Regions from separate parts of the Homo sapiens genome. Here regions 1 and 2 are each linked to region 3. Evidence: fine-mapped expression QTL. A gene starts in region 3. Each other region holds a variant in brackets. All regions are shown on one strand. Distances are between the middles of the regions.

Region 1 (5,227 bases), 66 kb before region 3:
ATTCTTAGCTCATGAGCCATACAAAAATAGGTAGCAGGGCAGATTTGGGCTGCAGGCAGTAGTTTGCTGACTCCTATTGAAACTGTGCCCCGAGGAGTTAAAGAAACCAATGACTAACAGAAATTCTTGAGTTTGCAGGATGGTAGATAAGAAAAGAAACAACCTGCTGAAATGCTGAAACTCCCTATGCTTGTAAGATAACAAAACTGGCTGAAATCAGTTGGAACCAATAGATCCAACTGGAGCCTGCCCAGAACAAAGCTTGCTGACATCATGGCCTGAATTTCTATCTTGTGTTTCCTACTAACTCCCTCTGAATGTGATCCATGAAGTACTGTGAAGAGGTAACTATGCCTGCCCAAGGACTTTCCATACCTTCCCTTTCCTTCCACCAATCAACCACTAATCCCAGGATCCACCTTTTCTAATAAAATTATTACATTACATGGAATCAATCCAATGCCCATCAATGATAAACTGGATAAAGAAAATGTAGTACATATGCACCATAGAATACTATGTAGCCATAAAAAGAGATCATGTCCTTTGCAGGGACGTGGGTGGAGCTGGGAGCCTCAGCAAACTAACACAGGAGCAGAAAACCAAACCCTGCATGTTCTCACTTATAAGTGAGAGCTGAACAATGAGAACACATGGACACAGGGAGGGGAACACACACTGGGGCCTGTCAAAGGGGTGGGGGAAGGGAGAACATCAGGATAAATAGCTAATGCATAGGTGATGGGTTGATAGGTGCGACAAACCATCATGGCACATGTTTACCTACGTAACAAATCTGCACGTCCTGCACATGTATCCCAGAACATAAAATAAACTTTGTTTGTTTGTTTTCTGAGATGGAGTCTCACTCTGTCGCCCAGGCCGGAGTGCAGTGGCGCGATCTTGGCTCACTGCAAGCTCTGCCTCCCGGGTTCACGCCATTCTCCTGCCTCAGCCTCCCGAGTAGCTGGGACTACAGGAGTGCGCCACCACGCCCGGCTAATTTTTTTGTATTTTTTTAGTAGAGACGGGGTTTCACCATGTTAGCCAGGATGGTCTCAATCTCCTGACCTCGTGATCCGCCCACCTTGGCCTCCCAAAGTGCTGGGATTACAGGTGTGAGCCACCGCCCCCGGCCAGGGATTTTTTTTTTTAATATGGTACTTTGTAGCCTCTGGAACAGCAATACAGAAATTCCAGCCACTACAAAATAAATGTATGCGTGCATGCACACACACACATACACACACACCCCTTTACCCTTTCAGTTGAGCCTTTTCCATAAACAAATTCACCCTCCCTTGATGAACTTGATTTGCAAGGCTAAAACCAAATAAGGTGTAAGTTAAGAGGAGAGCCTGCTGACACAAGGGTACCCCACGGTCTCTGCAGATAGGTTTCTCCTCCTGGTAAAATCTCAACAGGCACAGAGGGCAAGAAAGAAGAGCAGCCACGGTGGTGTCTCTGCCTCCATCACAGGCTCTTCTGCATTCTTTCTCTAGCACCATTTCTCTTTTTGAAGAACTCAGTGATTATGGCTTTTGGGGCACAATTTCACAGGTCCGCATAAGCAGATGTTTTTATGCATATCGTCTCCCCCAGGGCTCTCTTGTGAACACTGTATAAGCAGGCACACAAAATGATGAACAAAGCGTCCCCAGGACCCCTCTGAGATAGAGTTGATCTCAGGCATGAGCAAGAGAACGACAAGACAAGCCTGAAGCATCCCGTCATGCTGCAAAGGCGGGACGTGCTCCCAGAATGACAGGCACTCATCCAACGGACGCAGCAGTGTGCTTCAAAATTCCCCACAAGTCAAACCTTGACAAACTGGATATCAAAACAAATAATGGTGGGAATGGATTCCAACCCATTTCAATACTTCAGAACCCATGAGTCCATAGTGACAACACACAAATAAGAAGATAAAGCTCTGCCTTAAAACAGAAAGTAAATTACTAACTGCATAAAGAAAGAAGTGCCTGGCAGTGCCCAGGCTGATCTGTCACAGAGTTGTACTTCAGAGGTGAGATATTGCACTCCCTAACTCAATCACTAGTCAAAAGGTCTTGTTAATACAAAAGACTTTTCTAATCTTGGAAAAAAATAGTGGAAGGTAATACTGTCCAATGCTAATAGCTAGGTGGTAGATATATGGGTAACATTTTTTCCCTCCAACTATTTCCATTCTTTACGTATTTTGAATGGGTGTGTACTGCTTTTCTCATGCTCATAAAGACAATTGTTGAACTCTAAAACATCAAAATATTTCATTATTAAGACTACTCAGTATGGATGTAAATATTGCAGGTGCTGAGATGTTGGGGACCCAATTCACTTAAACATTTTTTAAATTCTCCTTTTATATAAGTTACTAGTATTGGAAAATAAAACAATCAGTTAAGTTGACCTTCAATAACTTAAGAGATAATGGTGGCAATATCCACCATGATTATTTTAGCAAAGCAAATTACTTTGGATGATATTCTTTAACATTTAAAACGTTGGCATTTCTTTACTCCAAGTCCTCCATGCCCCATTTTTTAAAAAGAAAGGGAAGAGAAAGACCAGACTTGGTGGCCAACACCTATGATGCTTGAGCTTTGGGAGGCTGAGGCAGGAGGATTGCTTGACCCCAGGGGTTCAAGACCAGCCTGGGAGACATAGCAAGATCTTGTCTCTTCAAAGAAAAAAAAAATTAATTAGCTGGACATGGTGGTATGCACCTGTAGTCCCAAGGCTGAGGCAGGAGGATCGCTTGAGGCCAGGAGTTCAAGGCTGCAGTGAGCTACAATCACGCCACTGGACTCTAGCCCAGGTGACAGAGCAACAACCTGTCTCTAAAAACAAATATGATACTAATAAAAGAAAAGAAAAAAATCCCAAATTTTAACCTTATTATATAATCTTTGATGTATATTTACCAGTATGAAGAGTCCCCTTTGTTGTATTTAACAAATTCTAAAGAATAACACGGTTATAGGGAAAATAAAGGAAATAGAAAGAGGTTAAGAATGTTTACATTTTCACTATTATCAATTCAACA[A/T]CTCCCCAACCAGTATTAGATTATTTTCCCTATATCATAAATGTCATAATAAAAAATGAAATAAGGTTCCTGGAGCCTGAGAGAAAATAAATACATATACACACACAATGGAGTCATAAAATCTGCAACATTGTAAGTTTTCCCGTTGTAACTTTCAATGTGTTGAAGCATCTTCTTAGTTGGTTACAATGAACACTGAAAAAGCTAAATTGATATATCCCCAAAGTCATGAAATGGTATCTCAGACACAGGGATGACCTTCAGAGGAAAAATGCTCCACATTCCCCACATGCCCAAGAAGCAAAAATGGACAGACTGTTTTTGTACTAAATGAAACTGTGGCGTCCATCCAAAATGTGGACATTGACATCGGCGCTGATAAGTCCCCTTCAACTTTGCATTTCCTCCTCGTCTCCAGGCTTCTTCATAACTGGAAATTTTGACTCTCACACAACTCACTTCACCTTGTATGCCCCAGGATGAGGTTGAGGGGGGCCCAGACAACATCACCCCATGAGGGGAAACTGCCCCAAACAAATACACCAAGTATCAGCAGTAGGAATAGCCAGGGAGAAAATATACCCTGCTCTAGGCTAATTTGACTATGAAAAAGTTTCATTTTTAGGCCAGCCATTACCCATGGCTTGGGCTGAATAGTATAGAACTCCATAGGTGTTAGAAATTATAAACTCTGTCCTCCTGATGCTTTCACCCAAGGCTGTCCCATCAGGTGCTCAGAGCTGCTGAAATTTCTCCTTAAAATTCTAGCACCACAACATTCAAGTCTAAAAAGTGGAGGAATTGAGTTTACATTGGTTTGACTGGATATTCAAGCCTTCCCGTACTGGACAAATGAAACTCTTCTCTAATTTCCATAAAGCTTTTGTTTGTTTGTTTGTTTGTTTTTTGCGGGGGGATGGGGGTGGGGAGTTGGTTGTTTTCTTGAGACAGAGCCTTGCTATGTTGGCCAGCATGGACTCAAACTCCTGGGCTTAAGCAACCCTCCTGCTTCAGCCTCCAGAGTACCCGGAATTAAAGGTGTGCACCACTGTGCGAGCTTCATTCAAGTTTTAGAACTTCATCCTTAATTTTAGACAAAAACAGAGGAAACCATCTCATCAAATCACTCCACATTTTAAATAGAAAAGCAGAGTTCCAGAGAATGAAAACCACTGTGGGCCGGGGCTTGCACAGTGGGCAAGAGACGAAGTGTTGACTGTAATGTGGGTCACACACCCTTTGTTCATTTCAGACCCTGTGAGGTCTACTGGAGATAAAATATCATCAGCCGTATGGGGGTTGCTTCTTAGAAGGAGTAAGGTAAGGTAGAGTAAGGTAAGGGATTTAGTGGCCCAATACCAGAAAGGAGTAGTGTGTTTTTAGAAGACATTCTCCCAAATCCTGCCTGGCCGAGAAGGGTAAGAGTATGGCTGTGGAGGATTAGGAGAGTGGGGGAGCTGAGAGCATGAATTGTAGAGCCAGATGGACTGGATTAGAATCTTGTCACTCTTGCCTTCCCCATATGCATAATGAGAAAAGAGGAATAACTATTTTGTAGAAGTGCAATGAGGTCTGAGTGACTGCAAAATGCTGACGAGTGTCAAGTGTCAGGCGTATTTAAGGTATTTTTAAATTTTTTTTTTATTTCCATAGGTTATTGGGGAACAGGTGGTATTTGGTTACATGAGTAAGTTCTTTAGTGGTGATTTGTGAGATTTTGGTGCACCCATCACCCGAGCAGTATACACTGAACCCAATTTGTAGCCTTTTATCCCTCACCCCCTTCTCACCCTTTCCCCGAATCCACAAAGTCCATTATGTCATTATTATGCTTTTGCATCCTCATAGCTTAGCTCCCACTTAGGAGTGAGAATATATGATGTTTAGTTTTCCATTCCTGAGTTACTTCACTTAGAATAATAGTTTCTAATCTCATCCAGGTTGCTGCAAATGCCATTAATTCATTCCTTTTTATGGCTGAATAGTATTCCATCATATATATATATATATATATATATATATATATATATACACACACATACATATATATATATGGTATTCCATCATATACATATATGATAGTCCATATATATATATGGTATTCCATCATATATATATGATAGTCCATATATATATATATATATGATGGAATACCATATATATATATGATGGAATACTATA
Region 2 (5,227 bases), 76 kb before region 3:
CTGTCTCCCGGGTTCAAGCAATCCTCCTGCCTCAGCCTCCCGAGTAGCTGAGACTACAGGCATGCAGCACCACACTCGGCTAATTTTTGTATTTTTAGTAGAGACAGAGTTTCACCACGTTGGACAGGCTGGTCTCAAACTCCTGGTCTCAAGTGATCCACCCGCCTCAACCTCCCAAAATGCTGGTATTATAGGCATGAGCCACTGTGCCCAGCCATCATGCTTACTTAGAATACTGAGTATAATTCAGTATTATTATACTCACACTCACTCACACTAAGATCTGTTTCTTTTGTTCTTGCTTTTATCATCTGCTCACCTCTTCATTGCAGTTGCTTTAGATTTGGTCATCTCGGGGTGAAAGAAGAAATAGGGCTCAACCTGTAGCTATTGGAACAGGTCTACATGAACCCACTGTCATTTTGCTTGGATGCTCTCCTAGATTGAATGTTCCTGGACTGAGAGCCTAGTAACCAGATAGTGGATTCTTGTTATCTACTCCAGTAAGTGAAGTGGTGCCTCCATCCTTGGAGTCATCCTGGACCTCTCTCCTCCCAATTTCAATCCTTCAGCAGATCCTGTAGGCTCCACCTTGAAAGTACTTCCCCACATACCTACAATCTCTGCCTTACTTCCTCCAGATTTCTGCTCAAGTGTACAAATACACATGACCTTTTTACCTTACTTGTCGGAAAATAAACACCCTCCTCAAACCCTAGTTCCCCTTATCTGGCTCAATTTTTCTCCCTGGTTCTCCTTACTAACCACAGTACTTGAATTGGCTCACTGCGTTTTTTGTCTGTCTCACGCTAGAAGGGAGTTTCATGTGGGCATGGTATGTGTCTGTCTTTTCACCCTATGGTCCAGAGTCCATAAAAGCTTTCAGCACACAGTAGGTATTCAATAAATATCCAGTGCATGAGTGAAGAAGGAGACAGCATGACATGGGGTTGCAGAAAAGAAGCCAATGACTTTGTTTTCATGTTAAATTGTATTGAGTAGCAAGCATGATGCCACATTTGAGGGATTCAGTAGTGACCAGAACTGAAATGGCTATAGCCCTCCAGCCAGCTAAATCCCTTGGCACTGATCCTAAAAGACACAAAATTCATGGCTGTGAATATCAGCTTGAGCCTCAGATCCTTCTCTGTCTTTACTCTCAACTCCAAGCCATCCAGCCCCAGGGCTAGAGCTGACACTGCCTTCGTTAAACCTGTTCCCCTGGTTCTTGAAGCCAAATTTGGTCTTATGTCTCCCATAGGTCTGTATCAGGAGGGCAGATGATTCTGGCACAATACTTCAGTATAAACAAACCACATGTGTAACCAAAAAGCAACCAATAAAATTAAGTACGAATGTTCCCCAGCAAAGACAATCTGTGCTCTGCTCCAAAGGAATAGAATTCCATAAAAGAAAAAAAGAAAGCTGTGGTTTTCTTGAAGGTCTATCTCTATTCCATTCACCTGTACAGATATTTATCTCAGTAACCAAATATGTTTTTGACCTACTGCTAAAAATTCACCACCATGGGAACTAAAATAAAACAAAAGTCTTTTTACAAGCACAGATTTTACAAACCTCGATTCTTGCTTTCATCTCCGTTTTATTCACCAAGTGTAGAAGCAGTACACTTTCTAAAGAATTTAACATAAAGAGCCTTTAACGTCTCCAAGAAGCAAAGTTCATGAAGAGCCCACCCTGTGATTCCCTGTCCCATGACTACGGCTCTCAGTACGGTGTGTTGACATGATTTCTCATCTGTTCACTGCTCTAGAATAGTCTATCAGCTCCTTAAAATCAGGGGCCGGGTGTCTCATTCAAAGTTTGGCAAGCTAAGCCCATTGGGAAATGAATCCACTCTGACATTTGCTTTTGTACAGCCCCATGGTGATATTTAATTTTCAAATGGTTGAAAAAAAATAATATTTTGTAACACCTGATAATTATATGAAAATCAAACATCAGTGTCCAAACACGAAGTTTCAATGGGATGTAGCCATGCCCATTCATTGCCAGATTATCTATGGCTGCTTTCACGCTATGTCAGCTACATTAGCAGTCCCCAACCTTTTTAGCACCAGGATCTGGTTTTGTGGAATATATTTTTTTTTTCCATGGACTGGGTGAGGAGGAGGAGAATGGTTTCTGGATGATTCAAGAGCATTACATTTACTGTGCACTTTATTTCTATTATTATTACATTGTAATATATAATGAAATAATTATAAAACTCACCATGATGTAGAATCAGTGTGAGCCCTGAGCTTGTTTTCCTGAAACTAGACGGTCCCATCTGGGGGTGATGGGAGACAGTGACAGATCATCAGGCATTAGATTCTCATAAGGAGCCTGCAACCTAGATCCCTCACATGTGCAGTTCACAACAGGGTTTGTTTGCACTCCTATGAGAACCTAATGTTGCCACTGATCTGACAGGAGGCGGAGCTCAGGTGGTGATGTGAGCCATGGTGAGTAGCTGTAAATACAGAATAAGCTTTGCTTGCTCACCCAGCACTCACCTCCTGCTGTGTAGCCTGGTTCCTAACAGGCCATGGACCATTAGGGGTCCGAGGCCCTAGGATTGGGGACACTTGAGACACATCACCACAATCATGCTACATCGTCACACTGAGTGGTTGCAACAGAGACAACTCTGTCCCAGGAAGCCCAAGACACTTGTCATCTGGCCCTTTAGAGAAATAATTTTCCAGCCCCTGGTCTAATTTATCTCCTCCTCCCCACAGTGCAGCAAGGACCTAGAACATAGCTGATGTTCATCAGTGTTTATTAAAATGAACTGAAATTGTCAGCAAAACTCTGACCTCTGGAAATAATCTGAGATCCCCCAAATTATTATTTTGTTATCTTATAAAGCACTTCTAATACAATTAGCAAAGGCTCTAGCAATTACAAAGCAAACTCATCTCTCATAGAAAGTTCCCCAGCTAGGAAAAACTGGAGAAGGTAATTTTATCTGATGGTATGTCATTCAGTCCAAGTCCCTCAAAACATCAGTGGAGTAAGCAGAACTGTGGAATTGTTTCTTTGATTCCAGGAATCCTAGAATCAATACCCAACACCATTATCACACACACGAGCATTAGGCCTTGCCAAGGGTAGCAGCCAGTAAATATCAGGAATGGAGCTAAGGAATCAGAAAATTGAAAGAGGCCCCAATTTTTATGCCTACAATATCTGACCCAGCCAC[T/C]ACCTGCACATCTCCACTTCATAAGACATCTTTCTGCATTCCCGCAAATGTGTCAAATTGGGAGAAAATCCTTCCTCATATCAAAGCAGGGCTAAACCTGTTGCCTCTCTACCTTTGATCCAGCAGTGATAGTTAAAAGCACAGGCTGATGCATTAGAATGCCTTGTTGTGAAATGTCCTAGGAGCCTGGCAAATTGTGTAGCCTTTCTCTGCCTCAGTTTTCTTGTCAATACCATGGGGACAAAAACATACCTGTGAGTCTTGCCCAACAATATTTAAGGCACCTACCTTTCATGATACGAGTCAGCCATACCCTGTCCATCCAGCTGCTTGGAACCTTTACTGCCCTCATCCTTTGGGGCAGACTTTCCATTTTCCTTTATGCCCTGAGCCACTCATTCATCCTCGTCTAAGTTGCTAAGCTTTTCTACTGAAGTTATTGCAATCATTGCAAATATCTTCTTACCCATCTCCCTGCCTCCTGAGTCTCTACAAATTGGTTCTTCCCATGGAAGCCAGTACCTTTCTGCATGGCATGGATCCCTGTTCTGCAAAGTCCAGGCTCTTTGGAACACAGTTCTCAACGCCATACATGACTTGAAAAGCTCAACTCCCGATGTGAGGCTCTTGGCGTTCACCCTCAGATGACCATATGTTCCCCCAATGAGCCAGTACCTCAGGTTCCCCAGACACATGCTGAGGGAGTCTGTGCAGTAAGAAATCTGATCTCACTCAAAGAGAGATCTGTTGTCCCTACCCCTGGGAGGCAATCTCTAAACTTGGGATGTCCTGAGTGGTAGGTGTCTTTGTTATTCATGGTGCCCCTAGGACCATGCCTGTTAGTTTTTGCTAGTTAGGAGGCACCTGGTAGAGCCCCTCCAGGCCAATTGGTATGAGCCCAATCTCCAGAGAAGTGGGAAGGGGGCAGGCAGAGATTGATTTTAACCACACGGGTCATGGCTCGATCAATCATGCCTACGGCATGAAGCCTCAGTAAAAACTCTGGACACTTGAGCTCAGGTGACTTCCCACGTGGGTGATATTTCGTGCATCCTACCATGTGTGGAAATGCATCCTGAAAACAATGGAAGCTTCGCATTGGGAATTCCCCTAGACTCTACCCTGTGAACTCCTCTTTTGGCTGGTTCAGATTCAGATCATATCCCTGTAATAGACGTGAGCCTTAGCATAATAGCCTGCAGTGAATCCTGGGGGTATTTTTAGCAAATTGTGAAACCTGAGGGTGGTTTTGAGAAATGCTGAACTTGTGGTTGGGCAGACATCTTGAACATACTTGGCAATTTGGAGGACTGTGCTTGCTTTTTTTTTTTTTTTTTTTTTTACGGAGTCTTGCTCTGTCGCCCAGGCTGGAGTGCAGTGGCACGATACCAGCTCACTGCAACCTCTGCCTCCCGGGTTCAAGCGACTCTCCTGCCTCAGCCTCCTGAGTAGCTGGGATTACAGGCACGTGCCACCACGCCAAACAGATTTTTGTATTTTTAGTAGAGATGGGGTTTTACCATGTTGGTCAGGCTGGTCTTGATCTCCTGACCTTGTGATCCGCCTGCCTCAGCCTCCCAAAGTGCTGGGATTACAGGCATGAGCCACCGCACCCAGCCAGGACTATGCTCTTAACCTCAGAGGTTGGCACAGTCTGGTTTTACATGATCCTAAGATGGAGAATAAGGAAGAAGGGGAGTGAGGCAGGGGACAGAAGGGAGTCCAGGGTACACTAAGGTAATGCTTTATGCTCTGAGTACCTGGGGGTCACCTGCACTGGGAACCACTGGGAGTCTGTTCTCCTTCTCAAGTGACAGGGAAGCCATGGTATTTCTCATCTACTACCTCCTGTCTATTGGCACTTGAGGGCAGTTCCCGAGGGCATTAACTCCCAGTACCTCTAGCCTGCTTCTCAGTCAGAATAGGGAAGTTTCCACACTATGAGCAAGTTCTCAGATAGAGAGTGGCAGATGCAGCAGAAAGAGCTGTGGGTGCTCAATGTATTGGCAAGCACCATGG
Region 3 (5,227 bases):
TGCTGAAGGGCTGGGCAGTGGAGGACAGTGGGGACAACTGGGGCACAGACTATGAGACGACAGCTTCCTCTGCAGGCCGACGACAGCAGGTCACTGCCCCAGGGAATCTGTGTCACTGCCTACACCATGAGTGCATAGGTTGCGCTCTCCTGAGGCAAGGCCTGACAGCTTTCATAATTGAGAGTCCACATACCTGGCGGGCATCCAGGCTGGAGGCCAGGCAAGCTTCTCCCATCCTTAAACATGGCCTGAAACCGTGCAAGAGAAGATGGAAACAGGCACCTGCTCCAGAGACAGCTTTATGGGTGGGCTCATTTGCAGGAGTTGGGGGCGGGGGTGACCCTGTAGGAAAGCAATCTTCTTAAGACTTCCCGTAGCCCAGTCATGAGTTGTCTGCAGACTGATTGCTCCACCTTCCTTCCTTTTTTTTTTTTTTTTTTTTTTTTTTTGAGACAGTCTTGCTCTGTCACCCAGGCTGGAGTGCAGTGGTGTGATCTCGGCTCACTGCAACCGCTGCCTCCCGGGTTCAAGGATTCTCCTCCCTCAGCCTCCTGAGTAGCTGGGACTACAGCATGCACCACTACACCAGGCTAATTTTTGTATTTTTTGTAGAGACGGGATTTCAAGTTGGCCAGGCTGGTCTCAAACTCCTGACCTCAAATGATCTGCCCGCCTTGGCCTCCCAAAGTGCAGGGATTAGAGGCATGAGCCACTGCGCCCGGCCCATCTTCCTTCTAATTATTAAAAAAAAAAAAAAAAAAAAAAAAAAAGGAAGGCAAGCGGTGGGGAACAGGGAAGCTTGGGGTTTTATAAGGAGAATGTGTTGCTGGCTTTTCAGATCTTAAAAACACTTAATCCCTGCAATTTAGATAAATCAGATAGGCATTACCAGGTTAGGGTTAAGGCTCCCAGAATGGCTTTGCAATTGATTACAAACACAGCACTTATTAAGTCTTAACTGAGTAATTTGCAGCTTATTTCACCCCCAGCTAATTAAAATGTAATCAGGATTGTCTAGCAATGTGCATTCTGTCAGCAGTTTTTCTTCCAAAGAGAAATCATGCCAAGGAGACCACAAGAAAAGCCTTTCACGGGAACTGGCTTCATCTAAGCTGGTGCTTTAGCCACTGAAACTGTAAAACAAATAAATTACAGCACTGACAATTCAAGAAAAAGAAAAAAAAAAGGTACTCTTTCTCCCTGGGAATAGGCTGCTCCGTTTTGTTTTGTTTTCTGTTGTTTCAAACAATAGTGTGGCATCTTAGGAGAGTGACTTTCAGGGTAGGACTCGGAGGGCTGGAAACCAGGTGCCTGGGGATCGGCCCTCTCCTGGCTCTGTCCAGGATGTCTGGGTAATTTCACCACAGGAGGTGAGCACTGGGTCTTCCATTCCCTGAAGACGCAGAAGGACTACAGAGCGTGCCCATTTCTCTGACACCCACGAGACGCTGCTTCTACGACTTAGAACAAACTCAACTGCACACTCGCGAACGCGCCAGCTTCACCAGCCGGTTCAAGATCATCCCCGAGGGTAAGGGGAATCACTTCCACATTCCACCCTTATTAATATGGCCTCCTCTGGCAGCTTAATTCCCAGGGCCTCTAGGGGGACCCCCCCCCCCACCCCTTGACCCAGCTCTGGCAGGAGGGGCGCCCAGTTTAAGAGCCAAGGGTTTGGCTTCCAGTTCCCGCCCAGCCAGGGGAACCCCTCCCCCCAGCCCCCATTTCTCCTTTTGGTCCCTCCAGAGTTTCCCTGAAGCGAGAAATTGGGAACTTGGAACAGGTGGGCACCTAGGGATAGAGGCGAGAAGAAGAAGGAGAGAAGGATGAGAGAAGAGAAAAATAAGCGGAGGATTTCAGAGCTCGCACGCTCGACAGGGCTGGTACAGGCAGCAGCTGCACTCGCTCGCGCTGAGTCCGGAACCTGCTCTCGTGCGCCCACCCGCACCCGGAGCCTCGCGCAAGTCCCGCGGGGGTCCGCGCCACAGGGCAGAGTCCCGGCAACCCGCTGGAGCCAAGCGCGCGGCTCCCGGAGCCTCCCACACAAGCGCGCGCGCACACACACATACTCCCCACCCTCAGGCTGAAAGAACCTACGTTCGGGGTTTGGGGGACGGTTCCCCCGGGACTCGTTGAGGAGTATCCGAATACGGCCCCGCCAAATCCCCTGTCCCCGGCACTTCTTCCCTGACGCTCTACGCTAGTCCAGGGCAAGACCTTGAATCTTTGGGGTTCCGAATTGAGGCGCGCACAGCCACTCGCACCCCCAACACGCGCATACACGCACCCTGGAACACGACTTGGCACAAGTACCCTGGCTGGGGCTCCAAGGGTGGGCAGCGAGCTCTGAGCCCTCAGAGAGTGAAAACCATCTTTCAAAAGAGACAAAGTGTCGGCCCGCGGGCACCTGCGGGGCTGGGGCTCGAGGTGAGGTCCCCAGGCGCAGCCGGACGCGCCTCCCAGACTCCCTCCCAGTGCCCCGGAGCGCCTGGGACTTTGCGGGAGTCGCCGCCCGCCCGGAGTCTCGCGCACTCCAATTCCCGGGAAACCGCCACATCCACACACCCACTCCCAGCATCCACGACTCTCCCTCCCCAGGGAAATCGCCTTTGGTTTCCTGCTGGGAAGGAGGGAGTTGGGGCAAGATGTCTCGGGCTTCTTTTTCTTTTCAGGAGCCGGGAAGAGGCTGGAAAGGAGAGTTCCAGCACCCCGACTGTAAGATCCACGCCCAGGGGAAGCCAGGATCAGCCGGCGGCGCTGGCCGAGAACTTTGCGAGCCCAGGCTGGGAGGCGCGCGCCCCGGTGCGCCCACGCCGCGGCCGCAGCCCCAGAAAGAACCCGGGCGGGGGCCTCCCCGTACCTGGAAGTGCTGGAAGAAGGCGGAGATGCGAGTGATCTGCAGGCTCAGGCACCTGGAGGCGCAGCGAGCGCGCTGGACGCTCCCGGCAGACAGCGACTCGTCCAGCCGCCGCGCAGCAGCCGCGCCGGGGCCGGCCGCCAGGCAGCCGCTGGAGGCCGCCAGCCAGAGGCAGAGGGTCAGGACCGCGCCGGGCACCCCGGGCACCATGGCTGCGGGTCGAGGGCGAGGGCGAGGGCGCCGGGCGCGGGCCGAGGCTCCCTGCTCCGCGCCGGGGCTGCACTGCTGAGGACCAGGCAGACGCCGCGACTGAGCCGGAAAGTTCAATCCTTCAACTCCGGCCGGACCCTCCTCGCCGACCTCCCTCCCAGCTCGCCCTCGAGGGGTGGGGTGAGGGGGACAGGAGGCCGCACCATTGGCTGGAAGGCGTGTGAGTGACAGGGGGGCCGGGCGCAGGGCCCATGGGCCGGTCTCGTCAGCTGCGAGCCCGGGCGCTCCGGGGGAGGGCGACGCCGAGCGGCTTTCCACGCCGCGCAGGTCTCGAGGGGCCCAGCTCCCACGCAGGCGCCTCTCCCGTTCGCACCAACCGCTTCCTGCCCCTCCCACCTTCCCCCTCCGTCCAGGTAAACGTCGGTGTGAGCAGGTCCAGGCCTGCCAGGAGGGGTGCTCCCTTCAGCAGGAGGGAAGAGGCCTCAGGACCCCCAGGGGCGTCCCACCTGCCTGGGGATTGACCCCGCGCCCCTAAGTGGCTTGCTTTCTCCCCGACCTCCCCTGGGTCCAGGCTTTTCCCACGCTTTCACATATTCGAATTTCCTTTGCCCAGGTAGTGGAAAGAAGTGAAGAAAACAAATGGCAGTAAGACAGACGGGGAGGGGAGCGTGGACATTTGCCCTACAGTGTCCCGGAGACAAATTCCTCCTTCTCTCCCTCTTGCATTTCTTCCGTCCTTCCCGCATCCCTCCCTCCCTCCCTCCCGCACTGTTTTCCCTGGAGACAGTCTCAGTGCATAGCTAACCACCTTTAGGTCCACACGCCTTGTTTCCTCAGGTGTCTGTTTTTCTAGTAAGCCTTGCACGCCCCAAAGTGAGTGATTTATTCTAAATAGACTTGCGTCTTAATCTCTTTCTTTCCCCACGATTTGCCCGAGCCTCTTGACTCAGGCTTTTTAGCTTTGGAATGGCTGCTCCGTCCTCTCCTGTCGTTTTTGTCTAGTGTTCTCTCAGCACACAAATTCTCCCTCCCCAGCCAGGATCCTGCCACAGAAAGACAGGAGGCATTGATAAGACACAACTTGTAACAAAGCTCTACACTCCCCTGAGCCCCATCAGGAAGTGACAGTCCCCTTGCAGGTAGGAGAGCCCAGAGAAAAAAGACCCAGGCACACTCCTATTCGAATGGACAACAACTGACTGCTGTTCCTTTGCTCTGACATCTCCACCCTCTCCTACCCAATTGCACTTTCACCTTCGAAAACGGGATCTCTATAAGCACCCAGCTAAGCACAGTCAGGGTATCTAGATGCACTCGCTCTACTCAAAGCTACATCAGAAGGCTGGAATCCTCTTTGCACAAAGCCTATATAGTTGTTTTGCAATTTCCCACCCTTTTCCCTATTCTTATACACAGGTTCCACTCTGCAATTTTGAGATCTGCCTGTTAACAAATTGCAATGACAGCCATCTGCAGCTATCCTATTATGAGTGCTTTTCAAATACATCATCTTACATGTGTATTTCTTCACATAGCTTAAATCAGAAAGGCCAGTCAAATTAATTGGCCTTGGTGTGTTTCTCAGCGAATTAGAAAATCAGGGTCATCTTGTTCAAAAGGTTCTATAGGCAAAGCCAGTTTCATGGACATGCAAGCTGTACAATGGTACAGTCGCACTCTTAGAAGGCCTGTTCTGCCATCACCATCCTGAAACTCTTCACAATGACAGTGGCCTGTTAGGAACTGGGCCGCGGCAGGCCAGGGAACATTACTGCCTGAGCTGTGCCTCAGGTGAGAAATCAGTGGCAGCATTAGATTCTGATAGGAGCTTCAGTCCTATAGTGAACTATGCATGCGAGATGTCTAGGTAGCGCACTCCTTATGAGAATCTAATGTCGATCTGAGATGGAGCAGTTTCATCCCCAAGCCATCACTTGCTACCCCCAGGTCCATGGAAAAATTGTCTTCCATGAAACCAGTCCCTGGTGCCAAAAAGGTTGGGGCCACTCTTTACTTGGGCTGGAAACCTAGTAATTTTGGCATAAGCTTACACGACTTCAATGATTTGTTTTAAAATTGCTCAGAATTGCAAATGGAAATATTTTTTAAGTATGTTAAACATAATATTAACGAAGAGTAAAGAAGCTAACTATAATGACC

Direction of the effects. Positions count from the first base shown, and alleles are read on the strand shown. Sizes are in standard deviations (SD) of each study's normalised expression.
With allele A in place of T in region 1, the expression in testis of the gene that starts at base 3,168 in region 3 is higher (small effect, 0.14 SD a copy in GTEx).
For the expression in spleen of the gene that starts at base 3,168 in region 3, allele T in region 2 goes with a lower level than allele C (small effect, 0.38 SD a copy in GTEx).

What was found. PIP is the estimated chance that this variant, and not a neighbour inherited with it, causes the effect. A credible set is the group of variants that fine-mapping cannot tell apart.
Region 1: its variant is the best candidate, but not a certain one, in a credible set for the expression of ANOS1 in testis (GTEx, PIP 0.63).
Region 2: its variant is the best candidate, but not a certain one, in a credible set for the expression of ANOS1 in spleen (GTEx, PIP 0.63).

What each region holds. Positions count from the first base shown.
Region 1 is chrX:8,663,355-8,668,581 of GRCh38, forward strand. All of the region lies in intron 2 of ANOS1 (anosmin 1), which reads right to left. Among named protein-coding and RNA genes, the nearest start is that of ANOS1, 66 kb to the right of the region's middle. The variant A/T (reference allele first, on the strand shown) is at 3,047.
Region 2 is chrX:8,652,940-8,658,166 of GRCh38, forward strand. The region is part of intron 2 of ANOS1 (anosmin 1); the gene reads right to left. Among named protein-coding and RNA genes, the nearest start is that of ANOS1, 77 kb to the right of the region's middle. The variant T/C (reference allele first, on the strand shown) is at 3,209.
Region 3 is chrX:8,728,970-8,734,196 of GRCh38, forward strand. ANOS1 (anosmin 1) reads right to left here and starts at 3,168. Exons shown (of 14, transcript NM_000216.4): 1 at 2,861-3,168. The coding sequence starts at 3,067. RefSeq lists an enhancer at 1-74.